Linked DNA regions of Homo sapiens: region 2 is linked to region 1. The links come from fine-mapping of genetic effects on gene expression. A gene starts in region 1. The other region holds a variant in brackets. All regions are shown on one strand. Distances are from middle to middle. Region 1 holds the start of KLF3 (KLF transcription factor 3). Region 2 overlaps KLF3 (KLF transcription factor 3).

Evidence for each region. PIP is the estimated chance that this variant, and not a neighbour inherited with it, causes the effect.
Region 2: its variant is the best candidate, but not a certain one, in a credible set for the expression of KLF3 in whole blood (TOPMed, PIP 0.50).

Annotation. Positions count from the first base shown.
Region 1 is chr4:38,656,848-38,672,733 of GRCh38, forward strand. It overlaps KLF3 (KLF transcription factor 3), which reads left to right and starts at 7,352. Exons shown (of 6, transcript NM_016531.6): 1 at 7,352-7,614. It overlaps KLF3-AS1 (KLF3 antisense RNA 1), which reads right to left and starts at 8,046. Exons shown (of 16, transcript NR_171644.1): 1 at 7,947-8,046. RefSeq lists enhancers at 5,220-5,541, 9,576-10,426, 10,427-11,276, 10,466-10,515, 12,923-13,492 and 1 more, silencers at 6,253-6,772, 6,803-7,072, 7,083-7,682, 7,743-8,092 and a promoter at 6,812-7,614.
Region 2 is chr4:38,677,458-38,693,343 of GRCh38, forward strand. KLF3 (KLF transcription factor 3) reads left to right here. Exons shown (of 6, transcript NM_016531.6): 2 at 3,130-3,225; 3 at 11,128-11,614; 4 at 12,272-12,422. The coding sequence starts at 3,169. Among named protein-coding and RNA genes, the nearest start is that of KLF3-AS1, 21 kb to the left of the region's middle. RefSeq lists enhancers at 9,756-9,925, 10,674-10,843 and cis regulatory regions at 9,841, 10,759. The variant A/G (reference allele first, on the strand shown) is at 9,505.

The DNA of each region.
Region 1 (15,886 bases):
TCCTTTTCTAAATTTTATTCATTATATTCTTGGCCGGGCACAGTGGCTCACACCTGTAATCCCAGCACTTTGGGAGGCCAAGACAGGAGCATCACTTGAGATCAGGAGTTCAAGACCAGCCTGACCAACATGGTGAAACCCCGTCTCTACTAAAAATACAGAAATTAGCCAAGGGTGGCACACACCTATAATCCCAGCTACTTGGGAGGCTGAGGCAGGAGAATCGCTGGAACCCAGGAGGCAGAGGTTGTTGCACTGAGTTGAGATTGTGCCACTGCACTCCAGCCTGGGTAACAGAATGAGATTCTGTCTCAAAAATAAAATAAAATAAAATAAAATAAAATAAAATAAAATAAAATAAATTGTATTCATTATATTATTATTTCTGCATTGTGTAATAATTAAGCAGAATAATACATATATTCTCTCTAATTCCTTGAATGCAGGGATTATGTCATACATATTTCTTGCACTATCACCCCCACCCGAGACCTATGGTAAAAGTTCAAGCAATACTAACTGAAGTAGATTAAATTCAAGATTTAAATGCCAATAATTATTCCTTAACATAGAGGAGAGGGATGGAAACATAAAGAGTCCACCTTACTCCAAAATAGTTGAAAAACAGCCTCATTCCAAAACAAGGGAGGTAGTTTTTCTTACTTTGTGGGTCTCCCATTCTTTACTTACTCTGACTACCAGCACAGGAAAAATCTAGGTAGTCTCCAACTCAGCAAGAAGTTGCAGTCTCTTTGTATGTGTAGGACATTGATTTGGAAATTATAAATAATTTCGCTTTGAAGTCATAGTATAAATAATGTTTTAAGGTCTCTGACAGGTCTCCAAAAGTTGACTGAAACTCTTAATAAAGAAGAAATAATATGTTTTCAATAAAAAGTAGAAAATAAAACTACTGACATATTTTACTTGCAAAATAACCAATAAACAATGAAATACACGTGATTTTTTTTTTTTTTCTTTTGAGATGGAGTCTTGCTCTGTCGCCCCTGCTGGAGTGCAGTGATGCAATCTCGGCTCACTGCAAGCTCCGCCTCCCGGGTTCAAGCAATTCTTCTGCCTCAGCCTCCAGAGTAGCTGGGATTACAGGCGCATGCCACAGCGCCCGGCTAATGCTTATATTTTTAGTAGAGACAGGGTTTCACCATGTTGGCCAGGTTGGTCTCAAACTCCTGACCTCAGATGATCTGTCTGCCTCAGCCTCTCAAAGTGCTGGGATTACAGGTGTGAGCCACCACACCCAGCCCAAGTGATTATTTTTAATTTGAATAATCATGATTCAAGGAAAGCAGATTTAACTATAGAAAAAGGATATCTTCTAACCATTCTCTCCTGGTGGCTATCTTCCATGTTTCTCAGACATTTTTTTTTTTTTTTAATGGAATTAAGACATGACTTGAGGGCCTAAGTCTTACTCTGCCCATAGCTCTGAGTAATTTCAGGATCCACAAGGAACCATGTTTAACACCCCAGTCACTCTTTTCACTCATCTCTTCATCTTCAGGGATCTTCTCCACTCCCTTCTAGTTCTCCCACTTCCGCAGGCACTCCCTGGACCGCACCATCCCCTAGGACTGCTTCACCTCTAAATACTAAACTTACAGGTAGGTCCCCATTCTCTGACAACTCACCTCCTAACCTTCCAGGTCACTCACTCCATTATTCCCAAGACACCCATTCTTCAACCTATTTGGAATGTCCAGTTCACCAATCCCTTGGCTATTTCTCTACAGCCTTATTCTGTTTTACCTCTCTGAGTTAGGTCCCAAGAACCAACATTTCCACTGTGCCACTGTCCTTGGATTGCACTGTCCTGCCAAACACAATCCAAGACAACTGTCCACCTGCACTAGAAATGCTGAGAGCTTCTGGAGGTGGGAGTGGATCATACATCCAGTCTGATCTTCACCAGAACTCATGGTCACCTAACTCAACCTCGGTATTTCCTGGCAATTCTAAATTAGATGGATGGATAGATAATAAAGGTGGAAACTTGCAGAGATGATGCAGAGAATCTCCACACCTTTTGTAATGTTTTAGAGATGGATAATTCTTAGACTAGCATTTCTAATTTTACTTCAAATCATATAGCTTTGTTTTCCTTTAAGGTAAATGTATCTGTGCTGCTCGTAAATTCACAAGCACATGACACTTTTCTGCCTTGGTAGCTTTGTCTGTCATCACACGAGGAGGAGAAATGCCCTGGGAAGAAATAGAAAAGCTCTAAAGTAGATTGGAAAAGAAATAAGAAATCTCAAGAAAATGTATTTGTGTAGCAGGAAGAGACTGCCTGAGATGGGATATACTGTGATGTAAGTCACAAAAGAGAAAGTGGAGGTTTGCAGTGGCTTGTGTCCACTAGCCCCTGAATCCATTTCAACATGGTGTTATTGTCCTGGGGTAGCTTAGCTGTCATACATTAATTAACAAATACTTATGGAACACCTTCTACTTCTATTTGTCAGACACTGTTCTAGAAGCTTGAGAAAAAGTGAATAAAACAATGTCCCTGCTCTCACAGAGCTCACATCCTAATAAGAAAAAAAGGTAGCAAATAAACAAAAAAAGAAAGGGGGTTTTTAGTTAACGATATACAAAAAAAGAAAAGAAAATAGGACAATGACTAAACAATGAATGGGCATATTAGTCCATTTCGTGTTGCTGTAAAGGAAACACCTGAGGCTGGGTAACTTATAAAGAAAACACATTTATTTGGCTCACTGTTCTGCTGGTTGGAAGGCTCCTTCCTTGCATGGCAGAAGGTGAAGGGGAGCCAGTGTGTGCAGAGATCACAGGGCAAGAGAGAAACAAGAGAGCCAGGAGGGAAGTGCCAGGCTCGGTTGTTTTTTTTTTGAGACAGAGTTTTGCCCTTGTTGCCCAGGCAGAAGTGCAACAGTGCAGTCTCAGCTCACTGCAACCTCCGCCTCCCAGGTTCAATCGATTCTTCTGCCTCAGCCTCCCAAGTAGCTGGGATTACAGGCGCCCACCACCACACCTGGCTTCTATCTTTTTTTGTATTTGTAGTAGAGATGGGGTTTCATCACGCTGGCCAGGCTGGTCTCAAACTCCTAACCTCAGGTGATCTGCCCACCTCGGCCTCCCAAAGTGCTGAGATTACAGGCGTGAGCCACCAGGCCTAGCCCAGGCTCTTTTCAAGAATCAGCTTTCTCCGAAACTAACATAGGAAGTGTTCACTTATTCCCCATCCTCAGGGAGAGTGTTCATCTATCCATGAAGGATCCACTCCCATGACCCGAACACCTCCCATCAGGCCCCATCTCCAACGCTGAGGATCAAATTTTGACACGAGATTTGGAAAGGACAAATATCTGAACCATAGCAAAGAGGAAGGGGGGTATGTTTTAAATTGTGTGGTCAAGGAAGTCATTCCTGAGGAGGCAACATTTGAGCTGAAAACAGAATGACTTGAAAAAAAAAAAAACTATCCACATGGAAACGGAAACGTTGGCTTTCTCTCACGAATACAAGATGGCTACTACAGCTTCAAGCATCACATCCTCACCTAACAGCTTCCAAAGCAGGTCTGGGGATTTCCTTGTATCAGGAAAAAAACCCCAGCACACTTCCCTTCATGTCCCACTTGCTAGAACTAGGTTGCATACCTACCCTCCAACCAGTCACTGGCAAAAGACACTGGGATTGGCTGGGAGTAACCAGGGTTCCTCTGCTGGGACCAGGCATGGGTATCCTCCACTGAGGATAGGCTTCCCACACCTAAACCAGACTGGCCTGCTGTCAGCAAGGAAAAAGCGCAAAGCAGCTACCACAAAGATCACACTTGAGATTGTCATGTAGGATTTACTGAACACCTGACCATGTTCCAGGCACTGTGCTAGTGTTAGGAATTTTAAAAAGACCCAGGCATCGCTTTTACTATCTCACTCTGTTGCTTAAAAGCACTCAGGGGGGGTAACTCCCTCTTCCCTCCTCTTCACCATTTCAAAGCCCCTGGACTGATGGAGGTATAGTTCACTGCCACTTGCCTCCCTATAGCCCCCACTCACCTCTTCAGCTCAGAATGACTCCTCCCTCCTCGCAACTCATAAACCACATTTATTCCTTTGACAAATATTCATTGAACATCTGGGCCCTGGGAATACATTTTTGCTGAAAAGACAAGGTCCCTGCCCTCATAGAGTTTCCAGTCTAGTGCCACAGAGAGATCATTAAATAGCCAACTACAAGAACGGAAAGTGTTACAAGAGGGGAAATAGGAGGATCCACTCCCATGACCCAAACATCTCCCATCACGCCCCACTAGATGTTACCAGAGCACCTCAACTTGTCCAAAGGTGCAGTGAGAGAATACATATTTGGAGAAAATGTCATTTAAGTCAAGACTGAAACGATGTATAGAATTTAGGGAAATGGGAGTAGAGGTCAGGTTGAGAAGACAAGGCTTTTCTACCTAGAAAAATGAGCATGTGCAAAGGGCCAGAGGTGGGAAGAGAGAGTTGGAAGAAAGGAACGGAAAGAAGTTCAGCGTTGCTGGAAAAGAGTAGGAAGAGAGAAGAGGAAGAAGTGTCTGTAATGACAGGCAGAGGCCAGGCCAGCAGGGGTGGAAAGCTTAGGACTTCATCCTATGGGAAGCCATTGAAGGGACTGACACGATCAGGCTTGCATTTTGGAAAGGGCACTCTTACTCCCGTGCTCCAATGCCTTTTTCATGCTTCAGCCCATACTACAAACAGGATGACAGGATGACCAACAAGACATGGTGGCAACAGGCTGGGCCAGCATAGTGGCCAGAGAGTGGGTAGTGACCAAGGAGGTCCAGGACTCAGTGAAACATGGGCTATGCCCTGCTAGCGAGAAGAAAGGCTTAGGTGCTTCTGTTGGGGTTTTGTTTTTTTTTTGTTTTGTTTTGGTTTTTTTTTTTTTTTTGACAGAGTCTCACTCTGTTCAGTGGTGACATGATCTCAGCTCACTACAACCTCCACCTCTTGAATTCAAGCAATCACCCTGTCTCAGCCTCCCTACATAGCTAGGATTACAGGCGTGCGCCGCCATGCCTAATTTTTGTAATTTCCGTAGAGACGATGTTTCGCCAACTTGGCCAGACTGGTCTCGAACTCCTGGCCTCAAGTGATCCACCCAACTCGGCCTCCCAAAGTGCTGGGATTACAGGCGTGAGCGACCGCGCCCCACCCTGTTGGGCACTTTGAAGAATGATGGTGTCCTTCACTGAGCTACCCAGCACTAGATAGATTCATTTCCGACAAGTTGCATTTGAGCAGCTTCCCACAGGGCACCGAACACAGTGTTCACTAATTAACTGTTTAAAATGGCTTTTCTTCTCCTTTGCCGCCTGCCCCTTCCATATCAAAACCACTCCCTTCTTATCTTGGGTCACACTTTTCTCCGACAGGCCTATTTCGCTCTTCCCCTTTGCGTCCACACCCACATGAACAAGGTAAAAAACATGGTTTATGTGCTTCAAGTTCTCGTCACTGTGTCCCTGGAGAAAAAAACGTACTTTTTTGAGCACCTACTATGAGCCAGTTTCACCAGCCATTCCTAGCACGGTGTTCCGCTAATGCAAACCTTAAGGCAGCCAATCAGCCATTTAATGATGTCAGTGATCAATAAATGGCAATTAGTAATTGACACGAATCCAACTCTTTTTTTTTCTGGAATGTCTTTTATTCATTATGAAGAAAAAAAAAACTCACACCCTTTACATTTTAAAGATGAAGCTTATGGGACAGCACGACGTCCCATGAGCCGGCGTCGGTTCTGGGTATCCTCCACGTGGCCTTTCCTGGACTTGCGTTATTTAAAATATGCGATTTCACTACTTGAGGTTACCGAGTACTAATTTTACAATACTGTGTAGCTACATGAAGCGGCTCGAAATATACTATTATCACTCCGTTTTAAGCAGCACGATGTCTGGATGAAGCATCAAAGCGAGATGGGTCAACTTAAAGGGCCTTTAAAACATCTTGAAGCAATAATAAGCCATACACTGAAGCAGGGGCGGTTTTAAACATTACACAGAACTTAAAACAATCGAACGAATTCGTCCTTTGTTCTTTTTATTACATTAATTATTACATTAATACTGTTTAAAAAGAAACTCAAAAGGCATTAAACTTAGGTACCAATCTACACAAAGTCCTCGAAGGGGCCTGGCTTGGACCGAACGCGCTTTTGTGCCGCCCCGCTCGCTCGCAGCACCCTGAAGGCCACTGAGCTTAGGGCGCTAGGTCCCTAGAAGCGACTTGAAATGAGGGGGTCGCCAGGCCAGGCCCTCGCTCTGCAGGGGAGGATCCGACCAAAGTTTGCCAAGTTTCCAGGCAAGCCCAACTGCGCAAATGCCGCTTTTTAGCTCCAGCGGCAGGCCTGGCCCGTGGGAGTTTTGCCCCAGGGGTCTCCGGGCCTTCAAAGAAAAGTCCCACGAGGTGGGGGGCGCCGCCTGGGCCGCCGGCCAGGGGGACCCGTCGCCCCAGGGCACAAAGAAAGAGCGCGCCTACAGGGTGTCCCCTGACCCCGGCGACTCGGGGCCAGGGAGGCTCGGCGCGCCCCAGCGGCCGCTCTTCCCCTCCCGAACCCGCCCGGCCCACTCGCTCCTGCACCGCGGCCGCCTCGGCTCGGCTTTTCTCTTGCAGTGAGCTGAGTGCGCTCAGCCGAGGAGGGGCCGCGCCGCGCCGCGCCGGCCGCGGGGCCCAGCCCTTCCCGCCGCGCCCGGGGCCGCCCTTCCCGCTGGAGCCGGCTGATCGATGGCCCTGGCAGCCCGCGCCCCCCGCCTCGGCTCGCCCGCGAGCCCGGCTGTGTGTTTTGGAAGCAGCGCAGCGGGCCGCAGCCGTGTGACGCCCGGAGCGGGCAGCGCCGCCCTTCCTTCCCCCCGGGCTCGGGCGGCGGCGCGGCGGCTGGGCCGGGCGGGAGGGCTGGCGGGGCGCGGACTCCGGGGAGGAGGGCGCGGGGAGGGGACGCGGGCGGGGACGCGGGCGGGGGGCGGAGGCCGCGCCGCGCACGCCCAGCCCCACGGCCGCGCCGCGCCTCGTGGGACAGGTTGGGCCGGCGGGGCGGCGCCCGGCTCCGGGGAATAATGAGTGTCTGTCAGGCCGTCCCCGGGTGACTGGGCGGGGCGGGGCGGAGGCGGCGCGGGAGGCGGGGGTGGCGGGGGAAGGGCGCAGGGCGGGGTGCGTGTTTGCGCGAGTGACTCGGCCGACCCCTCCGGCGGCTGCCTCCACCCAAGTGGGTGGGGACCCGCCCAGCCCGGGCGGCCGCGGCGGCTCCCTCTCCCCTCCCTGACCCTCCCACCCCGGGTCCCAGCCTCTACTTACCCCGCCAGCCCCGGGAGGCTCGCAGAGCGAGCGGCGCCGGCGTCATGTGACTGCCCGGAGTTGGTGCCAGGAGCCAGAGGGGAGCCAGGAGCGGAGCCGCGCGGAGCCGGGGCCCGAGCCGGAGCGCAGCGAGAGCGCCCGCCGCACGCGCGCCCGTCCCCGTCCCCTGCGGCCGCCAACGCCGCCCGGACTGGAGCCCTGACATTGCTGCGCTCGGGGGGCTCCAGGCAGCCCGTATCGGGGCCTTTATTTCTCGTCGGCGGCGCCCTGCACCGCGCCTCGCAAAGTAAGTCCCGTCTCCCTCACCTCTGCTCCGCACCCTGGTCCCTGCCGCCCCCCTCCTCGGCCAGTCTGGTTTCATTTTTTCTCCTGGAGGGGGCCGCGGGGAATGGGTCGGGGGTGCAGCGCTGGTGTTGGGGGGGGCGCCTGCGGGCTTGGGAAAGTGTGGCGGCTACACTTAGCCGGGGTGGGGGCGGAGAGCAAGCAAGGAGGAGGGGGTCACGGGTTCGCGGTGAAAAGTGAGGGGTTGAGGCGAGGCACCGTGCGGACCCCGGGTGCGGGGGAGCGGGGCTGGCAGCGCCCGCCGCCGTCCCGGGCAGGGCGCGGGCGGGGGCTCACCTGTGTGGTCCCCGGCCTCCTCCCGCCCGCTCACGATTCCCTCCAAAGCCCCAGAAATCTCCGTGCTCTCCGCGTGTGGCAACGTTGTTTGGAGAAAGGTAGCGCCGCGGCCGCGCGCTCCTGCTCCTCCCCCTCCCGGTGCCCCCCCACCACCACCACAACCCAGGCTCCCGCGTCCTTCCCCTCCCCTCCCTCCGCCCGCGCCCCCCGCCGCCCCCCTCCCAGGACACGGCGCGCGGCCGCTCGCCCGCCACAGCAAACTTGGAGCAGTCTCCCGGCCCTCTGGAAAGAAACTTAGGGCAATTGGGATTGGAGGCAGCATCCCATTCTCGGTTCTGGAGCCCAGGAGCTGCCAGGGCGTCTGGATCCTCCGGGGCAGGAGAAATGAGCTGGTCGGGTTTGGAGAGTCTTCCTGGGGGCATGGAGAGAACCTGCCGCAGTGCCTGGAGCAAGGATTGCAGCGTGGCTGAAGGCGGAAGACGCCTTAGGCAACTGCCTGCAGCCGAGCCTGATGGGGACCCAGGGACAGATCCCTGGATCAGGACCCATGGGACCTACCTAACATTTCCAAGTGGCTTTCTTAGAGATGGCAGATGAGATCTGGAATTGTCATATTCATTTTTTTGGGCAGATAGCTACTGACAAGGAGAAGCACTTTTCTGGTTTAAATTTTATAGCAGTATACAATAATACTAGAAGAATGTGAATGAGACTTATTTTTAATAAGTCAAGTTAAACGGAAATTGGAAATTGCTCACCTTCTTGTATTTCACTAAAATAAACATTTTACACTTAACCACTGAATTTCTTACTCAGAATTTATGTTTCCATTAATATCACCCAAGACATTTTAAATATATTGATTATATTCTCACAAGAGTCTGGTATATGGGAAAAAGTATGAAGTGGTATTCTGACAAGTACCTGAAATGTGCCAGCAAAATCAAGTGGGGAATAGGCCAGTTGTTCATTATAGGTTTTTCCACACAGCAGTTTTGTGCTATCCTTTTCTGTACGAATTTGAGGAGCATTTTTATAAGAGAAATTCATCTGGATGATCTGCCTCACCCTAGGGAAGAAGACTTGCTTTTAGGGGAAAAAACAATCTGCTAGCATTAATATCTACAAATTTTTTGGAGTTAGTAATAGTGTTTAAGGAAAGTGTCCACGAGTGATTTCTTCTGGTTTGAAAAGAGGTATGTTAGTTGACCTTAGGCTGTTAATAGAAACCTGAAATTAGATGTTCGATTAAATTAAACTCCCTAGAGAAACTGGTATCTTCATTTCTGCAGTCAGTGGGCTTTGCTGCAGAACTATTTATTAGAAGAAAAAAACCTAATGTACTATCGGTAAGTTCAATGATGATACATTGTAAAGAACATTTAGCTTGCATGAAAGGGAATGCAAGTACAAAAATCTCAACATGGGAATAACAAAGAAAAGTAACTGCTTAGACCACAAAACCTTGTCAGGTACAAAACGACAACAGAGTTTTGCAGAAAGCTATTGTTTTATTCACTGCAAAGTTTCTAAATTAAAACCCAATCTTCTTGTTGCTATGGGCACAGTGATGCTCTTTTTTTCCTTTTTTTTTCTTTTTTTTTTTCCTTACCTGTACTTAGTCTGCACACACCACATTCTTAAATCTCTGATAACGTAAGCTTGAGTTAAACAGTCCTGGCTAACAAAGTAAAGAGAAATAATGGGAAAGGAACTGTGAATGGATTTTACTATCTTAAAAATAACCCAAAGGGAAAATAGACATTTTAGAATGACTTCTAGAAATTAGTACTCTGGTGTACAGATTGCATAATAATTTTTAGATAAATGTCAGGAACAGAATCACATTCTTAAAAGGCGAATTTCTATAAACGTGTGTATATGTTGAACAGATGAGCAGCTCTGCAAAGATGTGTATAACTGCATTTGAAAAAGACAGTGAAAATTTTGGGTTACTGTAGATGTCCCACAGTCTGTCTTGGAATTTAGTTCTGTGACTAAAGGAGGCTTACAGTTGCTCCAATTTTGGTTCTGTGGGGTACCCCAATTGTAATCTGAATTCCTAACAGCAGTGCTCTATCTTTTTTCCTCTTGATGCACTGAGGCTGAACCATAATCATTACCCTAACTCGGAATTTGATCTGAGCTAGGGACTAGCCATTGGAATGGGGCAGAAAGGGACAAAAGAAATCAGGAGGGAGGCTAGTGTTCATTAGGAAGGTCTCTGCTGCTTGAATATGATAAAATCACATTTCACTTATGATGTTTACTGTATGTGGCAGCTCTTATTTGTAAATAGGGCAGGTCCCCTGTATAAAGCTGGTGTTATTATTCACACCCGTAGAACAAACACCTCCACCCCCCTGTTGTTGTCTTAAAAAACTCCAGCTGCTCATGAATATAGGGTCAGGGAGGGCCGGCTAAATGTTTCTCTGTGCTTTCTCTCCAGCACAGCCAGCAGAGCTGTTTCCTGTTCTTTGTTTCAAGGCTGGGGTTTGCGTCATACATTCCAAGTGGCATATGTGTGCTCTTTCCTGTTTCAGGCTGTTTTCTGGTAGATCAGTAGCCCAGACCAGGCTGAGGTCCCTGCCCCTAAACTCCGTATCCCCACCCATGGAGTTATCATGTCTCTACACACTTGATATTGCTTAAGACGCCTGTGTTATGTCATAATGAGAAGTCAGTTAACCTTTTTACGTACACCCTTTGCTCCACTGCATTTGTCTGGGTGAATAAATGCTTTTACCTTTTTAAATTTTTTATTGCTAGATTGTGATTTGGGGAAACGTGGGTCCATCCTGGCAAAGAAACCTAAAGGAGTTTTGTTTGTATTTGTTTGTAATTCTTGTGTTGAAGTGGTTAGGGCGTTTGTTTTAAGATAGGCATTTTGCCCTGAAGCTGTCAATTTTGGATCAGGATTAACACCTTACAGTTTAGAAGACCTAGCATTATCTGAAAGATGTGGCCCACCCTCGTTCACGTTTAACCCAGGCTGCTCCAGGTGGCTTCCGTGGATGGAGAATTTAAGCAATGTTGGCAGCCTGGCTTTAGTTTAAGTCTTGCTTATGTTTGGAAGGAGAAATCTTTAGAAAAATCATTGAAGCAAAGCCTAAGACATTGAGAAAATCCCGGGATTATTTCTTTTTAAGGACAAAGATTTAAATATCAGGATAATGTTTTAAGGACAAAGATTTCACTGTGCAATATTCTACACCTCATTTCCAACCCGTTTTTAAGAATTAAAAAGCTCAAAGGAGAACTGGCATTAACAAATTCATTTAATGCTAGATTGTTTGGAAAATTTTAATCTTCTATTTTGAAAACAAGAAGAATGCTCTTCTCATTTTTGTTTTACAATAATATTTTTCATTTTTTAAAAATATTCTATCAGTTGTGGGTTAATGAATTTCTAGGATAACTATTTAAGACCTGCCTTAATATTAGTTTTCTGTTGGTTCTTGAGAAACTAAGATTTAAGGAAATATTTGCTTGAAAAAGAAAAGTTTTGGAAAGTGCTTTTGTAAACTTACTTGGGGATTTTTTTTTTTTAATCAAAAGGAATCATCTACAGCATCTCTGTGGAATTAATTTAAAGAGTTGCTGAAGCAGCAAATCAGGCTCTCTTCTCCCCAAAATTGATGATAATGGTGCGTTTTAAATGTCACATTCCACCACATTCTTTATGTATAAATGGAAAATATAAAATATGATATTAAGAGAGTTATTAGTATCAAATAGTTGGCTACTGATAACCTTCTATGAAAAAAGCTGGGAGTTTTAGAAGTCCCAATAACTTCTTTCTCCTTTGGGAAAAGCAGCTGGAAATACTTAGCTGACCTGTAGGACAAGAGACTTTTAAGCTTAAAATTCATAAGTAACTCCAATCGAAGCAGGTTTTTTTGTTTGTTTTGGTTCCAAAGTTGTTAACAATCTAACTAGGTTTGGTAAACAGAGTCTTTATTTGGCTTTCCCCAAATTCTTTCTTCTCTCTTTTGCAGGGAGATGAAGTGGTTAATAGAGATAATTAGGGTCTAATATATTCTATCAGAAAAAAATTCTGCAAGCTTCTAAATGCTAAGCTGAATAGTTGGGGAAAATTATCCTATCTTATAGTTGCTATGATTACCAGAAAGATGGGAACAAGAGTTTTAATTTCTTAACCATATAAATCATGATTCCTAATTTAATTTCATTGTGTCTCCATCGCCCCTTGAGATACTTGCCTTCTTAATATTTTCAAATCAACATTTTTGCTATAAAACGACAGATTTCTTAGGCAGCATTTCTTGTTCTCTGTTTTCACACCCAGTTGAGTTTAAGAAAAATAAAATACACACAACCTCATTCTTTAAGGTACTAGGAATTACAATTACATTATTCTGGAACTTGGATTCTTTCTGAAGTGCATCATTTATCATTGGTTCTAGCTTTTTAAAAAAGCAAATCCCTAGAATCTTAAAACAATTGATATCTAGTTTGCTAGTATGTGATATTCTAGTCAGAATTCCTCTTGGGAGTGAGTTGGAAGAGGGTTATGGTGGTCGCTAGCATTCTCATTTTCAAGACCACTCTGTTCCTTTCTTAGACCATGTTTCTCATCTTAAGCAGTCATGCCCGAGCTGGAGACAGGAAACCAGACAGCAGTCTGCCCTGATAAGGGACAGCATTGTCTGAAGGCGGGGAATAGCCCTGCTTTTACCCCCAACTCAGCTCTCTTTGCTTGAAATTTAGTAGTCATAGAAGAGGCACAATGCTGTTGACAGTTTCTGAACCAAAACTAGGATTCATTTCTTCCAAAGCAAAAAAATAGTGTCCTCGGCCGGGCGCGGTGGCTCACACCTGTAATTTCAGCACTTTGGGAGGCCGAAGTGGGTGGATCACCTGAGGTCAGGAGTTCGAGACCAGCCTAGCCAACATGGCAAAACCCCATCTTTACTAAAAGTACAAAAATTATCCGGGCGTGGTGGTGGGCGCCTGTAATCCCAGCTACTCAGGAGGCTGAGGCAGGAGAATTGCCTGAACCTGGGAGGTGGAGGTTGCAGTGAGCCGAGATTGTGCCACTGCACTGCAGCCTGGGCAACAAGAGTGAGACTCTGTCTCAAAAAAAAAAAAAAAAAAAAAAAAAAAAAAGATGTCCTCTTAACTGGCCTTGTCCTTATTCTGTAATGAATGTGACCATATTCTCTGGAACAGTAAGAAAATAAAAAAATGATCTGTGCATTTTGTATCCGTTGGCCAGAGAGTTTGTAGTAAAATTGTTTCTTTAGCAAAACAGGCTCCTGGAGGTTTTTGAAACTCACTCCATTGTGTCGGCAGGCTGAATTCATTATCATTTCTCCATCTAATTATTTAGAAGGGCTGGAGACAGAAGAGAGCAAGTTAAGTGGCCCTCTAGCCCATGCATTTCATGTAACCCCTGGGTCTGGCTCTTACCCTGTTTCCTGTAAGGGGGCGCTCCCTGAGGCAGACCCTTTGCAGGAGGACCCAGAATTGCCCTGCTTAGTCTGGGACATCCTCAGGATGGTTGCCAGTCTCTGGAAGGCTTGTGGATCCTGCCAGGGATGGCCCAGAGCTAGTCTCAACCCAAATCAGTGGAGTTTGGCCAAATCTGGACATAAGAGATCAAATGAGTATTGAGGTCAGCGGATTCTGCCCTGGAGAGCGACCTGCAAATCAAGTGTGGGGTTTTTTCTCTGGCCTATATGCTGTTCTTTCTACTACCACTGTTGTTTAAGTGTAATCACTGAAATCCACTCCTTTATCTGTTCCTGTACTTTGCATCCCTGGTACCTTCCAAAGCTTCACACTCCAAAGCCTCTTTCATTTGTAAGATCGAGTTCCTGTTCCGCTGAGTTTCCAAACCAGGGAGTTTTTCTCTCCCAGGCTCCCAAAGTTTTCACATTTACTTTGCATTTTAGAAGATGAGGTTTCAGGCTGGCTTCACCAGCCGCTGGACAGAGTTTCCATGTAGGACACCTGGTGTACCATCATTCCAGGGCCCTTGCCCTTAATTTATCCTAGCATGTGAGAAGTGTAGTTTGACATCCATTCATTTATTCATCTCACAAGTATTTATTGAGTACCTACTTATTAGAGCTAATCTCAAATTATGTGCAATCATTACTCTGAGTTATGCCATAGGATGGAGTAGATCTACAGTGATCTAACCTGAAAAGGCATTTTGAAATCTTAATTGCCTGCTGGAACCTCCCCCTGGCACTGCTTCCCATGGGCCAGTGTGGCTGTGCACACCCACACCCTCCCTACTGGGGAAAGACCCCAGCATTAGGCGATTTTACCTAAAAGTCGGTCCCACAGCACAGGCTCTGAAGCAGAACAGAAAGTGCCCGGGTCTGCAGGCAGACACGCTTCTGTTCCTGGCTGCAGCTCCAACCAGCTCTGTGAAATTGGGCGAGTCATTTCACCTCTGTTCCTCCATTTCCTCATTTCTAAAATGGGGATGAGGACCTGACCCTTCCACCTTTGTGCAGTTATTATGAGGATTTCCGTATTTACTTGGGTCAAGCTGCCAATTTTTCTCAGCAGTTATATCGACAATGCAGGTGCACTGGCTAGGAAGAATAATTGCCTAATTTGGGGCCTTCAGAATGTGTCTTTTGATCTTGCATCCAAGTGTGCGTACTGAGACAGGGTGGGCAGCAGGGGCCAGTTGGAAGGAGTGGAAACTGTCACTAATGTAAACAGACTGTCCCCACGTTCTGTCTTCTCCGGGGACCAACCTGTTCACAGAAATCACTATCATGTACTTACTGTTGGTGGTGTAATGTTGTCCTCTGCCTGGGGAGGTGGAAGAGTGGTGTGCCAAGGCCACCAGTCTTAAGTCAGACTACCTTGGGTTCAAGTCCTGGCTCTACGAGTTAGCAGCTGTGTGATGTTAGGCAGGTTACTTGACCTCTCTGTTTCAGTGTTCTTTTCAGTAAAACGGGAAGGTAGTAACCACCTCATTGACATTAAACAGCGCCTGGGGATTGCCAATCACGAAGGTGGTGGTGATTGGCAGGAAACCTGTGACATCACTTAGCCCCTTGCCTTCCTTGATCCCTTTTCAAAAACCTGTGTTTGTGCACACACCCCTTCCCCTTGCAGTTCCCCCCCACCTGCCTCCTCTCCTCCCTTTCTCGCTTTCTTTTTTCTATTTTAGATTTTAAAGTACAGTAGAGACCTCGACACTAGACTTGTTTAGAAGACCTCACTGAGTGGATAATAATAAATTATTTGAAGATGGTACTAATAAGGTCTCTGGAGTACACATGATGGGCCAGGCTAAGGTTAGGGGCAATAACTTTTCCTTAGGAAGTTTGGTTTACTAGGTCTCCCTTAGAGTTAGGCCCTTCATCCCTATTACTTGTTTAAGGGAGATTTCAAGTGCATTCAGAGGGAAAGGGAGATGATTGTGGAACTCCTACTATAAGCTAAGTGCTCTTATGTTAGCTCCTTAGGCTTGACATAAAAACTTCATTCAGGGAACAAGCCCGATCTCCTGTGGGGAGTGGGGAGGGAGCCCTCTCAGGAAGGCTGAGGCCTGCCTGTCTGTCCTTCCCAGTACTGGTGGCGGTGTGGGACGCACCACTGGGAAAGCTAAGAGGCCTAGACTATCTAGGTAAGAAGAGGCGGCCTTGGATCCCCCAGGGAGCAATCAGCTGGCTGCACAGAGTGGGGAGGGCCTTGAGCTGGTCTTTGAAGAATTAGGGGGATTTAGATAAGCCGGAAGGGGAGGGGGCATTCCATTGCCGGTTGCCCAGCATCAGGGCCAAAAATGAACAAAGGCCTGGGGGTGGGCAGGGCAGCCGGCATGAAGGGCACTTGTTGGAGCAGGGGGCAGCTCGTGGGTAACGGGGTGCCAAGCATGGGTGCCTGAGCCCACTGTCAGACCCGGGGAGTGCACGGGAGGGAAGGTTGTGAGCTGGAGAAGGATGGGA
Region 2 (15,886 bases), 21 kb after region 1:
ATTGAAAGCTATGTGAGCTAAATGGTAGACTTAGAATTTGAACGAAAAGGAACTCCAGAGCCCATCATCTTAATTTATTCTGCTGTGCTGCAATTAGTGGTCGTAAAGCGTGCAGGATGACATGAAGTGGGGAGATGCTGGCCTCGCTCAGAAGCTGTTGTTGCAGTGGTACAGTTGTGAAGTGACAAGGCCTTATATGAGACCTCATACAGGATGTAGGCAGCTGTTAACTTTGAAACTGAATCTAGTCAGAGTTTTATTTAAGGGTGGGGGATAGACCTCTAAGGCTAGTGTATGTTAGCAAAGAGGCAAACGCCAGACATTTTTGCTCCGGAAGTTGGAACCAACACATTTAGTGTTGTGTGTACAGAATATACATCCAGATTTTATGTGCATATGGATATAAATGAGGGCAAAAGGAGTGTGTGTGTGTGTGTGTGTGTGTGTGTGTGTGTGTGTTTTAATCTCACTTGATAGACCTAAATCCTTGAGAAGCAGATAGGGAGCCATGCTCTGCATTTTACAAATGATCACTCTTGCCCCATGGCTGCGTTAGTTTGCAGCCTGCTTGAGTCTCAAAACCATGGCTCCTTCCTTATACACCTGAGAATGTGAATGCTTTAATTTAGAAGCATTTGCATCAAGATACTCTCTAGTGGGATAGATGAGTCTGGAAGAGTGAATTCAGTGTAAAAAGCTGGGGGTGAGGAGGTGGGAGGCTGCCACAGGGTGACCAGCCGTGAGTCAGGGCTGCTAAATGATCTGACCTCATTGATGTAAGCAGGAGATCTCACATCTTTTGTTTATGGTCCACTGTGAGGCACTGGACAACAATTCTTAGAACCATGTTCATCCGTACAGCTGCTAGTCTGGGAACTGCTTAATAATAGATCCCAAGACACAAAAGCGTTTTCATCCCTCATTACGAAATCATCTATTTTTCACTGGCTGTTGCGGTTAGTTCTTGCTGGAATACATAAGAGGGTAGTAGCACTATTGATTTGAGCAGCTTGGTATCAAATTGTGTTTGCAGATTACAATACACCCTGTGATGGAGGAAAATATAATTTTGAAGTCAAGGCCTTATGTCGAGTTATTGATGAAATTCGTGTGTTGTCATGAGATTCAAAACAGGCTTTCTTCAATGAATCAACGAAGCACAAGAACGACATAGTATCACTTCCATCATTGTATATGAAGATATCTTAGTATAACCCGTAGAGCACCAACACAACAAATTATAGGATTGCTATCATGGAGGTGGGGATGGGGGTTTTTAACACTGAAATACAAGAAGGAATCCAGAACCCGGGATTCCTGCAGCTTCTTCAGCTGGAACTCACTCTAGAACTTGTTCACTTTGCCACTCAAACCAGGGTGATCTATGAAGACCTTACCTCTAACCAAAGCACTGAGCACTTAAACCAAATTTGGCTAATGAGTGCCTGAAGTCGATTTCTGAAAGTGTGTCTAGTAGCAGGACAGTGTTTCTGTAACTGAGGAGACACATTTGAACATTGAGCAGACTGAATATTTTGTCCTGTGAAGAAGCAGTTGGCTTGATGTAGATTAGTGTTAGAAGTGGACTGTACAGAACACAGAAGAAAATAGAAGGGATGGCAAGCAGAGAACAACAGAAGAAAAAGACAGGACAGGATCAAGGTGGACATTTCCTTTACAATAGGCTCATTTCCTAATGAGGAGAAATCTGAGTGAAAACAAGCTAATATTCTTCATATGTGAAAAGTGCTTAGAAAACAATAAGAAGTGGTGGAGGCTGTCAAGCCCTAAGTAGGCATTTCTCAAAAGAAGAAATCCAAATGGTCAATAGAGCTGAAAAAAAATAACTTCAATAACCAAATCAATTTAGAATAAAAATCATTTGCCATCTTGAGACTTAACAAGTTGGCAAGGTGTTTATCTTTTATAACACAAGTGATAACACATGTTGCTGGTGGAGGTTTGGGGAAACAGGTTGTATTTTATTAATGAAAATAATAGTTCGTCTTTGCCAGGTGATGGCATCAGGCGCTTTGGGAAATGTATATACTTCTCACCCAGGAATTCCCCTACAGAAAACTTATCCTAAAAATTAATGGTGTGCAGGAGGATATATTTAAAGAGGCTCATTGCTGTTCGTAATGGCGAAAACTTAGAAGCAACCCTAAGTGCCTAATAAAGAGGAAGAAGTTAAGTAAACTGATGTGTTCACACAGTGGCACGGGGGATTTGATGGTGCAGAACCATACTTGGTGCAGAACCATACTTACTGTAAAAGAAACATTTTCACATAAATTGTTCAGTGAAATGATAGGTACTAAATACCATGTACACTATGAGCCCAGTTTTAAAGAGGGTTTGTTAGAATAAAAATGAAATTTTAATGATGGTTGGTTCTAGGTTTTCTTTTTGCTCGTCTTTTTTTCCCCTAATTTTTCTGCGACCAACATCGGGGAAAAGGGAAGGTGTTTAACGGTCATATGTAATCTGAACCCCTAAAGAGTTGCACGGCAATCCCAAGCAAGCTTTGGCGCTCAGAAGGGGCTGTACATAGTGTTCCAGAAAAGTCAGGGTTTCTGTATTGAGTTAGAAATGCTGGTTGGCTCTCATCTGGTTATGACCATGGAGTCTGGTTTTAATTATGTAAATGGCATCTTTCATAGGTAAGGGAAACAAATTCCAGCCATTCCAGGGGTAGGGGAGAAAAAGGAGTAGAGAAGTGGGGTGAGGTATTATATTTCATTTTATTATTTATTTATTTATGTTTTTTTTTTGAGGTAGTGCCTCGCTCCATCACCCAGGCTGGAGTGCAGCGGTGCCATTTCGGCTCACTGCAACCTCCGCCTCCTGGGTTCAAGCGATTCTCCTGCCTCAGCCTTCCGAGTAGCTGGGATTATAGACGAGTGCCATCACGCCCAGCTAATTTTTGCATTTTTAGTGGAGACGGGGTTTCACCATGTTGGCCAGGCTGGTCTTGAACTCCTGACCTCAGGCGATCCGTCTGCCTCAGCCTCTCAAAGTGCTGGGATTACAGGGGTGAGCCACCTTGCCCAGGCTATATTTTATTTTTACTAGTTTGTATTTAAAGTAACCTTGAGACTTAGATGGATACCTTGTTTTGTTTTCTAGGCCAAACACCAGAGCACCCTAGAAGGTTTAACTAAAAGAATGCTCATGTTTGACCCAGTTCCTGTCAAGCAAGAGGCCATGGACCCTGTCTCAGTGGTAAGTTTTCCAAGATTGAACACCTCGCCTTATTTTTTCCAAGTGATGATAACATTATTGTGTGTTGAATTATTCCTTGAAATCATGGCCGGGCGTGGTGGCTCACGCCTGTAATCCCAGCACTTTGGGAGACCGAGGCGGGAGGATCACCTGAGGTCGGGAGTTTGAGACCAGCCTGACCAACATGAAGAAACCCCGTCTCTACTAAAAATACCAAATTAGCCGGGCGTGGTGGCACATGCCTGTAATCCCAGCTACTCGGGAGGCTGAGGCAGGAGAGTCGCTTGAACCCGGGAGATGTAGGTTACAGTGAGCCGAGATAGCAGAGATCGCACCATTGCACTCCAGCCTGGGCAACAAGAGCGAAAGTCCGTCTCAAAAAAAAAAAAAAAATCACTCATTGCTTGACAGGCATTTCATAGGCAAACTTTTCTCAACGCCACCAGGTATGAGTGAGCTAAATACTGTCCTAGCAGCTGTGGATCCTTTAAATGGGATCTGCGCTTCCTTAAGACCCGTGCCCGGTGTCCCCCTAAGATATGATCAGCATAGAACTTAGGCCACAGGTGAATCCTCTCATGACAGAAGTAAGTTTACAAAAATTCCTCAGCCCTTTTGTGTGTAAAAATATATTAAGAATAGGATGATTTGCTTAAAAACCAATGACAACAGCCATATGGAGCTGTAACTATATGAGATGACTGAGGGAAGCCAGCGAGAGAAAGACTTGGCAGTGAGGACGGAATCTCGTTTACTTGGAAGAGTCTGGCTGGGTAGGAATTACGTTCATTGTCCTTTTCAGCACCTTAGCGCTAAGCCAGCCCCTCATGGGAGCCAGGCCACTGGCTGCTTTTAGGCCGCCAGGGACTAGTGAGGAGTCTGGGGTTTCTGCAGGTACAACACCAGTGCCATGAAGGTGAGACATGGTGACAGAGGAAGGTGTCTGACTTCAGAGCAGGGAGTGGTTTCAACTTGAGGATTCTGGTTGAGTGAATATTGAATAACAAGGCAATGCTCCCACTCTGTCTTGCTCTTTTCTTCCACGGGCTTGGAAAATATTCACAAGGGGGAAAACTTGGCCCGAGGTGTGTATCTGAAGGTTGGTAATGACACGCTTGCAAAATTAGATCATCCTTGTGCATGGGCTCTGGAGGTTCCTGCCAAAAATGTTTATACAAGACACGGGGGTCACGCCGAGGCCCTTGGAGCTGAGTTGCCATGGATATTACTAAGCCAGTAAAGTGTTTACCAGTATCTATAATGCAAGTTAAGTCAGAGGGGCTTTAAGGAAATAACATTTACATTCCAGCATGATAACTGAATAACCAAGTGTCTGAATATGGTAGCAACTGAGCAATAAGGATTTTATTAATCAAAAAACTAAATTACTTTTTGAGATGGAGTCTCACTCTGTCGCCTAGGCGGGAGTGCAGTGGTGTGACCTCAGCTCACTGCAACCTCCGCCTCCCAGGTTCAAGTGATTCTCCTGCCTCAGCCACCATAGTAGCTGGGATTACAGGCGCATGCCACCACGCCCGGCTAATTTTTGTATTTTCAGTATAGGCCAGGTTTCACCATGTTGGCCAGGCTGGTCTTGAACTCCTGACCTCAGATAATCCACCCACCTCAGCCTCCCAAAGTGCTGGGATTACAGGCATGAGCCACCGCTCCTGGCCAAAAAACTAAATTACTTCGAATGTTATTCAGTGCTGTCATTGTATTCATCAAATCCCCCTCCCCGGCATCACTACATGATCACGTTAGAGGAAAATGAAGGTATAAAATTTCCCCATTAGTTATATTCTTGAAATAGGAATAGGTTTTTAGCACTGGAGAATATGATTCATTTTACAATTGGTGCAGAGCCATCAGTGAGGCATTTTACTGTTCAATGTACCTCCAGTGCTTTTAATCAAGCATGAACATAAGGCTCAAGAGTCTAATATAAAGCTAAAATGAAGATCCACATTGCTAAATTGGTGTGATATATATAATTAAGTGCAAGGAAATGCACTTAACCGAAAAAAAAAATGTGGAATAAAATGAATTTGAAGTAACTGTTAAACTTGTATTGTTGTAACGTAGTAATACATGAAGTTAAAATATGTAGAACTGATTTTGCAGTTAATGGTCTTTTTCTCCTTCATGTGCTAGATTTCAACTGCAGCTGACACTTTTAGAATTTAGTTTCACCAAAAGTTACTGTCAGTCCTTTAAAATGAAGGTGTTTTTTTTTCTTTTTCTTTTTTTGGTTTTAACTTTCTTCAGCAGGAAGTATTTTTTTCTTAATTCAGTGCAACCTCAGTTAACAGAAACATTTGAGCAGTGGGGTGTTAAAATGATTTTACTTAAACAAATTAAAAAGCTTTTGTTTCCACTCTTAAGTGTTCAAATTTCGTCTTTCCTGCCTTCATAGGTGAAGTATATTGAACCTAATTTATTATTCCTTTTTCTTTTTAATTCAGTCTTTGATCTGAAGGTAAAAGTCTTTCGCTATTCAAGTCAACGTTGTAAACATTAAGGCACAATAGGACATTTGTAAAAGTATTTTTAATTTCTATAGATGAATAAAAATATTTTATGGTAACTTATTTCTCCCCCTCTTCCCACCCCCTAAAAGGATAGCACAGCAGAAACAATCGCTTGTTTGTGCTTTTGCTATAGGTTAGAGAAAGTGAGGACATGTCATTTCCCTCTTAATCAAATATAAGCCCTCATACTGTTCTCCACTAGCCTTGTGCTTTGAGGCTTGGGGTCACCCTGTTAAAATTTGCTAGAATGAGGAACAGAGGAGACTCTCCCTCCCCAAGTCTGTGCCTTCAGTCTCTGCTACTTACATCCACCCAGTGTTGGCAAAATCACCAGCAGCTCCCCGAGCTTCTGTTTTTTTTTTTTGAAAAAATTATAAAATATGAAACTGTGTGTAAAAAAATGCGCATGTACATAAATTTTTTTTTTTACCATTTCCCAAAAGATTGAAAATTAAAGGATTTAATTCAGGAAGTGAGCAAGGAAACAAATTGTAAAAAAACAAAACAAATCAAAAAACAAACTTTAAAAGTATTCTTCTATTCCTGTGGAAAGATTACTTTTGAAGAAAGGATTAATAATATTCTGTTATCTTCAGTCATCTAACAGACTCCTTATAGATAGGAAAGTATGTCACATCAGTAATTTCCTCTGCTCTTTTCTAACAGAAACTTTTCATGGCTTTTTCAAGCCTGGTGGAAAGAGAGCTTTCTACCTCTGTTTGCATGGGGGTGCATGCCATTTGCTCTTCCCAGAGTGTGTGTTTATACACGCACCATGCCTTCCTGTGCCTGGAACCCTCTCTTGGATGAAGATTCTTTTGACTTGACCTGTAATGGACATTCACTTTTTTTCATGTTGAGGAATAGTGAAATAGAGATTTCATCCATGTTTCCGTCATTCCGTCCACTGAAACTGTCTTATAATGGAAAGCTCGCCAAAACTATTCCTCATAAAATGAGAAACTATTGCAATTATCACCTTAGCATAAAGTGATAGAGCTTTGGGAAATTATCCAAACATGGTACCTCTTTCCCTGTTGCAATTAAAATCATTTTTTCAAAGTTCAAAATAATTAGTATATTATTCTTCACCTTATCAGTAATAAAAACCTGCTAAGAGAGTGTGTCAATTTACTACACATTCATCAAGTATTAATTGAGCACCTATTGCAGGCCCTCATCACCTCACAGTGCAGTGAGAAGCAGCAGTCAATAAGTAAATGCACACTGTGCAGGGGTGTGAACATCTGAGTACATGTTACAGACGGAAATAACTCTTATAGCAGATCAGTGGTTTTGTGGAGGTTTTTTTGTTTTGGTTTTTTGTGTTTTTTTTTTTTTTTTTTTTGGTTTGGTTTTGGTTTTGAGACAAGGTATTGCCCTGTTGCCCAGGCTGGAATGCAGTAGCAAGATCACTGCAACCTCAAACGCCTGGGTTCAAGCAATCCTCCTCCCTCAGCCTCCCCAGTAGCTGGGACTACAAGCAAGCACCACCATGCCCCGCTACATTTTTGTTTTTTTCTGTAGAGACAGGATCTCATTATGTTGCCCAGGCTGGTCTCAAACTCTCGGCCTTAAGATATCCTCCTGCCTCAGCCTCTCCAAGTGCTGGAGTTAAAAGTGTGAGCCACCATGCCTGGCCCAGCCCATTGTTTTAAGCCCTTAAGATCCCTAGTGGGGGCCAGAGGCAGAAGCGGGAAAGACCCATGTCTGTGTCTTGTCTTTGGACTGCTCTGTTCCAGGACACAGGGTCTCTTGGACTAAGCAGCATGCACAGAGGGCACTGGAGGTCCATCCGTGGCCAGAGGCACATTTTTTGCTTCATCAACATTTGTCTCTGATTTGGATATGGGGCCAGTACAGCCGTGCTTGTATGCATTGCTTTGATAGAACATAGGAACTGTCTGGAACAGAGCGGGGAAGACTGTTACCAGGTTGTACCTGCCCAGAGCACACACCCTGCCGTGTCAGTCCCTACACGGCACCAGATTGTTGGAAGCTGATTGCAAAAGCTTGTGTGTGCCACCCAAATAAAGTGAACCAGCTTGAGGGACCACATGTCTTCACCCTTTTGTGAGGCAGTTGGGCTGGAAACAGTTAATTATCTGCCCAGAGTTGGGTGTCTGTGTCCAAATGTGTCTCTCCCCACAGTTAGTCTTGTACCTTACAATAATCGCACATCCAATAGAGGGAATGAGGGCATTCATTTGAGAACAGACTTATCAGCAAACTGCATAATGTTGATAAAGCTTAGCTTTATGTGTGGCTTTTTCTGTCTTAATGGCTTGAGAAACCTGAGAATATTATTAGATTTGCAAATCTGGAGGTTCTAAATTCCTACTCTCCCAAAACTCACCCCATGCATAGAAAAATCCAGCAATGACAGCAATAAAACTGTGTCCTCATTTTGCTTCCCATTTAGCTGCCAATAACTATTGGCATTAAAATCTAGGTCATAGGGAGGTCTTGGAAGAACAGGGCTGAAAATAAGGGAGAAGCTACATTTTCGTCAATAGAAACAATGCTGCCTCCCATTTCCTAAAGTTTTTTCCTAGTACCAGAACCATTGCCCTTTGGAGAATTATATAAAGCACATTAGACTTTAGGACTAGGCGAAATCATTCTCCTTCCTATATTTAATTACTCCCTGAAACCCTCCAGTGTACATGATTTATAATGGATTTATTTTGTTGTGTTGTTAATGAACCTTGTGCCTCTTTTAATAATACCCATCTTAATATTTAAATTTAAATCTATTTAATACTTAATGTTGCTATCTTTTGGATCTCTTGCGTTGGTACTGTGCGTGCCTGGCTTTAAAGAAAGGTAGAGAATCTTTTCTTCATTTGATCCTTGATCTATAACTCAAAGCTGTTTTTATGCATTTTGTGTTTTCTGATTTTATATCCTTCATGTTCTTGTTTTTAAGCAGTATTAGTAGTGAAAACTGGCTGCGCGTGGTGGCTCATGTCTGTAATCCTAGAACTTTGGGAGGTTGAGGCAGGCAGATCACTTGAGCCCAAGAGTACGAGACCAGCCTGGACAACATGACAAAACCCAGTCTCTACAAAAAAATACAAAAATTAGCGAGGCGTGGTGTCATGTGCCTGTAGTTCCACTTCCTCTGGAGGCTGAGTTGGGAGAATCATATGAGCCCAGGAGGTCGAGGCTGCAGTGAGCTATGATCATACCACTGCACTCCAGCCTGAGTAACAGTGAGACCCTATCTCAAAAAAAAAAAAAAAAAAAAGAAAAGAAAATTCTTTTTCCCTCCTTTAAATAGACCTTTAGTATCTTTATTTTTTATCTCTGTCATTTAGAGCATTGCTATTCAAAAGGTAGCCTAAGTTCCCTTGGTCCACTCCCCGGTAATTCAAAATTTGCATTTTAACGAGTGCTCCAGGGAGATGGATGTGCACAGTAAAGTTTGAGAAACTCTGGTTGGGAGCAGTAGAGCCCGTGACAGTGAGCATCTCTTGTATAAGCAGGGACAAGAAGGGATTTCCAGGATGGCATGTGTATAAGCTCGTTGTGTAGGTTATCCCATAACCTTGATCTTAACCATGAGGACCTGACATCCAAACCAGATAAAGATAAACACAGTTATGTGATAAAGTTTCACTGACTGACTCCTCCCTAACAGGCTGCTCTGCAGGCCTGGAGCAGGGACTGGGCATCTGGAATTTTAAAAACAACACAGATGATTCCAATGCATAACCAGCCGAGGATTCGCCCAGACCAAGCCCAG[A/G]GAGGAAAGAGGGTGATCTCAGTAGGAATCCCTATCAAAACCACTGCTGCCCCACAGTCATAACTCACAATAGTGGCCACCAGAGGGGCCAAGGAGACCCAGAAATTAATAGTGCATTTACGCTGTTTAATTACAAGGCACCATTGGGTTTTCTTGGTTGCATCCCAAGTTAGTATTGCCTCTAACTCTTAAACACATAGGGTTTTAGAGCTGGAAGAGAAGCACAATATGTTGTTTATCACTGTCACTGTCAGACATTCAAGTACAAAGAATTTTCTGCAGGTAAGCAGGCTTGACATGCAAAATTTCAGTTTCCCTAAAATGCCTAGTAAAGATGATGGTTTATGTTGAGTTTAATTTTTTTAAATTAAAAATTAGGTTGCATTCTACAAAGAAAATTTACAACAAAATGTTAGTTAAGGAATAGAAGTAATTTAGGTGAACTCCATGGTCAAGGATAGTGCCCATTGTGTGAAATTATGATGACTGGTTTGTATTTAAAGCTGGCAGATGAAAGTTAGGTTATCCTGATATTTAAAGAGAGAAAGGTGTTTGAAGATAAATGAGGTCAGTTGTGGACCAGATCTTGGGAAGGAAACAGACTCTTCTGTCTCTTCTGCACTCCCTTGTTTGTGCCCCAGCCTCATTTGATGAGTGGGTAGCAGGGTATAGAGGAGAGAACACAGGGCCTCAGCTTGTGTGAATGACTTTGAGCTCCACATTTCCTTATGTGAGTCATATCACGTTAGCTGTTTCTTATAGTTCCGTGTCATCCACAGACTTGCCATTCAAGTCTACAGCTTCATTCAGATTCTGAATAAGAACACTGAGCAAGTTAGGGCCAGGGACATCATTGCCGCAGTGAGGGTGGCCTTCAGTACAAAGGTGTGTATGGTGACTGACCCCCTCCTGGTTTGCCTGAGACTGTAGAGTTTCATGGGATGTGGGACTTTCAGTGCTGAAACTAGCACAGTTCCACGCTGACTAGGATTGTTGGCCAGTCCTAGGCATGGATTGTACAGCTGCTGAAGCCCATCAAATGAAAGGTACTGCCTATCCTGCAGCCCCATTCTTGCTTATTATACACAAGTATGATGAGAAATCAATGTCCTGCTGAAGTTGAAGACACTACTTATCCTGAGAAAGAGCTGTCCTGCCGAAGTTAGACATCAAAGCTAGAGAGCATTTCCTGCTCATCAAGAAACCCCACCAGAAAAGCAACCAGGTTGGTTTGGCTTGACTGGTTCTTGTGATGCCCACCTCTGACTCCTAATGATAATGGCCCCCAAGCCTGTGCTATCACCTGTCTTAGAATTTTGCCAGGTATCGGCCTTAATGTTTGACACAGGAATCATCTTAGGATTAAATTTCAGATTTTTCATCTGCAGTAGTGACCACATTGATCTTAGTTTTAATATTTTTGAGACCGCCTCTCATAGCATTTTTAATGTTGAGACCACCTCTTTGAGCATTTTTTTAAGGTCACATATATATCGAAATCTAAACTATTTTGTAAAGCCCATGTAATTGTTAAGTGCCTTGTTAGCATATTTTTCTTAATTCATGTTTCAAGTAAATGGACTTATTTGGCTGTTGACACGTTTTCCTTTTCTTTTCTAATAGTCATACCCATCTAATTACATGGAATCCATGAAGCCTAACAAGTATGGGGTCATCTACTCCACACCATTGCCTGAGAAGTTCTTTCAGACCCCAGAAGGTCTGTCGCACGGAATACAGATGGAGCCAGTGGACCTCACGGTGAACAAGCGGAGTTCACCCCCTTCGGCTGGGAATTCGCCCTCCTCTCTGAAGTTCCCGTCCTCACACCGGAGAGCCTCGCCTGGGTTGAGCATGCCTTCTTCCAGCCCACCGATAAAAAAATACTCACCCCCTTCTCCAGGCGTGCAGCCCTTCGGCGTGCCGCTGTCCATGCCACCAGTGATGGCAGCTGCCCTCTCGCGGCATGGAATACGGAGCCCGGGGATCCTGCCCGTCATCCAGCCGGTGGTGGTGCAGCCCGTCCCCTTTATGTACACAAGTCACCTCCAGCAGCCTCTCATGGTCTCCTTATCGGAGGAGATGGAAAATTCCAGTAGTAGCATGCAAGGTAAATTCCGCCACTGCTCCATGCTGCTGCACTTGCTTAGCGTACTGGCGCTTCACCAGATGGGGTGGGTGAGGAAGCATGGGGGCAAGAGCTGTTGAACTCTTCAAAGGAAATACTCATCTGCCTAAGGCATTTCCTTCCCCCGCCCCCCCAAAGTGTTGATACTGGAAGAGATCCCAAGAATCAGGCTGTCTGTTTGATACCATGACATGATTACTTTCACTATGTAATGGTCAACTTGGGGATAGAAAGAATCTTGACTTTATGTTGCTTTCTTGAATACCAACATGGTTCTAGGTACAAAAGGCATTTAATAAATCCTTTTTGATTGTGGTGAAAACTAATGGTGATCAAAAGCTACCTTGTTTATCAGCTGGTCATAGAGGACTAAGGGGTTGAAAGGAAATAATCCAGAATTATAAGAACGAATCATTTCAGGGCTGGTGTCTTATAATCTAGGTCCCTATATTTGCTGCTTACTGGCAAAATAATGGTCAGGAGAGGTGAGAATCTCCCACAGATTTGTTCCTGCTATAGTCTGCCAAAGGCAAATAAACCTGTCATATCTGTGTTGTAGGTAGGAGCTATGCAGTAAGCTTTTAAAAGCTGAAATTGGTAAACTGTACGTGAAGTGACTTTTCTATTTTTATTTTTTAGTACCTGTAATTGAATCATATGAGAAGCCTATATCACAGAAAAAAATTAAAATAGAACCTGGGATCGAACCACAGAGGACAGATTATTATCCTGAAGAAATGTCACCCCCCTTAATGAACTCAGTGTCCCCCCCGCAAGCATTGTTGCAAGAGTAAGTATATTTAGGTCTACCCAGCATTTGCATAGTAGTGTGCATCTTGGAACCTGGAGCAGAAGCACAAGATTTCACACGTGTGATGTGGTGTGGATGACCAGGAACGGCTTGTGATCTGTGGCCGCCACTGGTCCAGTACCACTGGTCAAGATGGGAGAATCTCTCCAAAAACAATATGCTGTTACACTGACAACGTTATGACAAAAGTTACATCAAGTTTTCATGGAATCAGTCATCCATGATTTTGCACCTTACCACATGAATTATTTTTGTTTTTTTTCCATTCTTCCAGGCTATGTATACTTAGTTTTTCCATTATGAGAATCCTTGTATAGATTAAACTTGGTGTTCTGTGGATCATGTAAAGTTTTCATGTGGACACACATAGTCCTTACAGAGTGTATAGTATCCTGTAGAATTGCTATCCAGTAGGAAGGCTGTGCAGTGTTGGTCAGCATCCAAGCACCTGAATGGTGGTTTCTTGTAGGTCTAACATGGTATAATGTGGTAGTTGCCACACACAGCTTCAGTAACCTCATTTGTGGGATCCTGCTGTAGATAACCTTGACCTCCACCAGTGATTACACTGAAGGCTGGGTTTGTAGTTGCTAAGAAGATGGTTTTCGGGTCCAACAAGGATCCCACCTCTGCTCTCTGCCATATGTATGATCTTGGACTAGTCACTTAATCTTGCTGCCCCATTTCTGTTTTCATTATTGATTGTAGTTGTGATTGTCTTGTGTTATGGTGCTTCAGCATTGGATTCAGCAGCCAGCTTCCTAGTACGAAGGCAACGATTACCTCCACAGGGTCCCTTCCATTGTCCTCCTGCATCATTTTCCTCCAACTTGAATAAATGTTCTACCCACCTTTCTCCTTTATTTTCTCTACCCCCTGTACCCCGCTCCCTCTCACAATTAACTCTACAGCAGAATGTGAATTCTCTGATTTTAGAATAACTATTTTATGGTAACTTCAAATATATCCTAGTTGTATCCACATTCAGCTTGGGTAGGTACCTTCATAGTAGCTCATGGATTAATTGTCCACTGCACCCAATCATAGTCATTTTTGGTTTGGGTTGTCATATGCTCCCCAATAGATGAAGAAGAGAATAACTCTTAGCCGACTTCATCAGCAGGTAGGGAGAGAGTCTCTGATGGAGTTATATTTCATTATTCCTCACAATTGCATAGTGCCCTCTTACCTCAAAAAAAACCTTCCCAGGTGTTTTCAAAGGAATTATTTTATTCCTCCACAACAAGCCTGTGGGAGTCGGAGCAAAAGGCAAAGTGATTACCTGAGACATTAGATAACTCGCCAATATTCACCCTGCTAACAACTGAGGGGCCTTGGGCTTGATCTCCTGCTTCCGAATCAGGGCTTTTCCTGCCATCTTGTCATATCCAACCCATTGCATCTGCTCATGCACTCAAGTGAAAGGAAAAAATGACTAGGCAAAATGGACACATCTTAGAGGTGGAATTAACTCTTTTTTTATGTTGAGGGATGTTTCTGGCAAGGTAACTAGCAACGTGGCCTGCACTTATAGTTGTTCCTGCATGGGTGATGAAAGAGATGCTATAAAACTAAATAAAACCAACTGCCTCCAAGGGAGGGATCCGTTGACTGGACAAGTGTTATTCCAAAGTCTGGGTTATTATGAGTTGCAACGTAAAACATTACATAAGAAGATTTGAAGGCAATATTCTGTGCTCTGAATGCTGCTCAAAAGAAAATACTTTTATTTTAAGTAATATTCTTTTGATGATCTCAAGCTCAGTGGCTTTTAATGATTAATGAGTAATATGCTTATTTTAATGCTGACCTAAGAATACATTCTGCTTCTCAAAAAAACGCAACAGATTAGCCACAGCTGGGACATGTACTCTTTAAGTAATGTTCTCACAGATGTGATTAAGTAACGTCTTGGAGTATGCCCAGTAGCAGCCCACGTAGGAAACCAGCTAGCCAGGAAAGAATCACTTGAAACTAGGCACCCAGTACCACTGCAGTGAGGCAGCCCCAATAATATTTGCCTTAAGAAACGCTTCCTTTCCAGAGGCAGACTTAAAAGTACAGCTTTGAAATCCATTTGCTCGATTGTGGTGTGGCAACTTTAGGATTATTTATAAAGGCACTCAAAGGTACATCAAATTCTATTTGTTACAGATTTACAAAAAGATTTCTTTGTTCTAAATATACAAAACTATATTTAGAACAAAAAGCATAAGGATCAGATTTCCCTATTGAGTTGTGTATGCGAATTATAGCAAACTTAAGAGGGGCTGTCTCAGCTCAAAACAGTGGACAAGATATCTTATATGTATTAGCTCTGTAACTTCTTGGTTATAATAATCCCAAACCATCTCTTTGAAAATGGGAGTGGAGACCAAAAAGTGTGAGATCCCAAGACTCTTCATCTAGCCTTGGCCTGAACCAACATCAGCGTCTTCAGAGATGCGGCAGGTTAACTGTGCTCAGAATGTTTGAGGGACACAGCTCAAGCAGAGATATCCTGGTTTGGGGACATCCTCAAAAAACTCATGAAATTAAACAACCATAGGGTACAAAGTTACAAATAGACTATTTTGAACCTGAAAATATTCATGGCTACCATTTATAGCTTTATCTTGGGAACAGACATTGTTCCGAGATATAACCTTCTGAGATAACATTATTATCATCCCCAGTTTACAGAGAGGAAACTAAGACACAGAGAGGGCGAGATCTTGGCCCAGGATCACAGAGACTGTCAGTGACAGAGCTGGATTTGTAACTGGAGCCCACAGCCTTTCGGTGCACCTTTATGTGTAAAATAAACAACTGGAAAGGGCAGTCAGAATTACTGCACAGAAACGATTAGATTCCCAACCCATAAAATCCAATAATTGGGAGAGATTTCTAAAGTTATCTGAAAAAGATAGTCTCCCAGTATCCCAAAGACATATAAAAGTTTTATAGTTAATAATTAAATTTCTACCCCAGCACTTTATTTCCTGAATTTCTTTTAATGGAAATGAAATATTTTCATTAGATGGCATTAAAGCTGAAAGTTAAAAATAAACTGAACTTTTTTCTTTCTATTGAAGGATTTTAAATGAATAATTCAGCCTTATAAAAACTCTGTCTGTAAACCTCTCACTTTGCTGTGTTCTCTGCTGTTTGCACATATATATATATGTATATATATACACATATATATACACGTATATATATATGTACATATATATACATATATATATACGTGTATATATATGTGTATATATATACATATATATAATTGAAGTCATTTTTCTTTTCTCCCTCCTCACTACTTTATGTTCACTTTTCCATGTATCTAAACTTGGCCTATTTTATCCATCTCTACCACCCTTCCAGGTATTAGAGTAGGAAGGTGAGAGTCAAAACTGACAGTTTCCTTTGCTCATAATAAAGCATGAGCAGTAAATAAATAATGT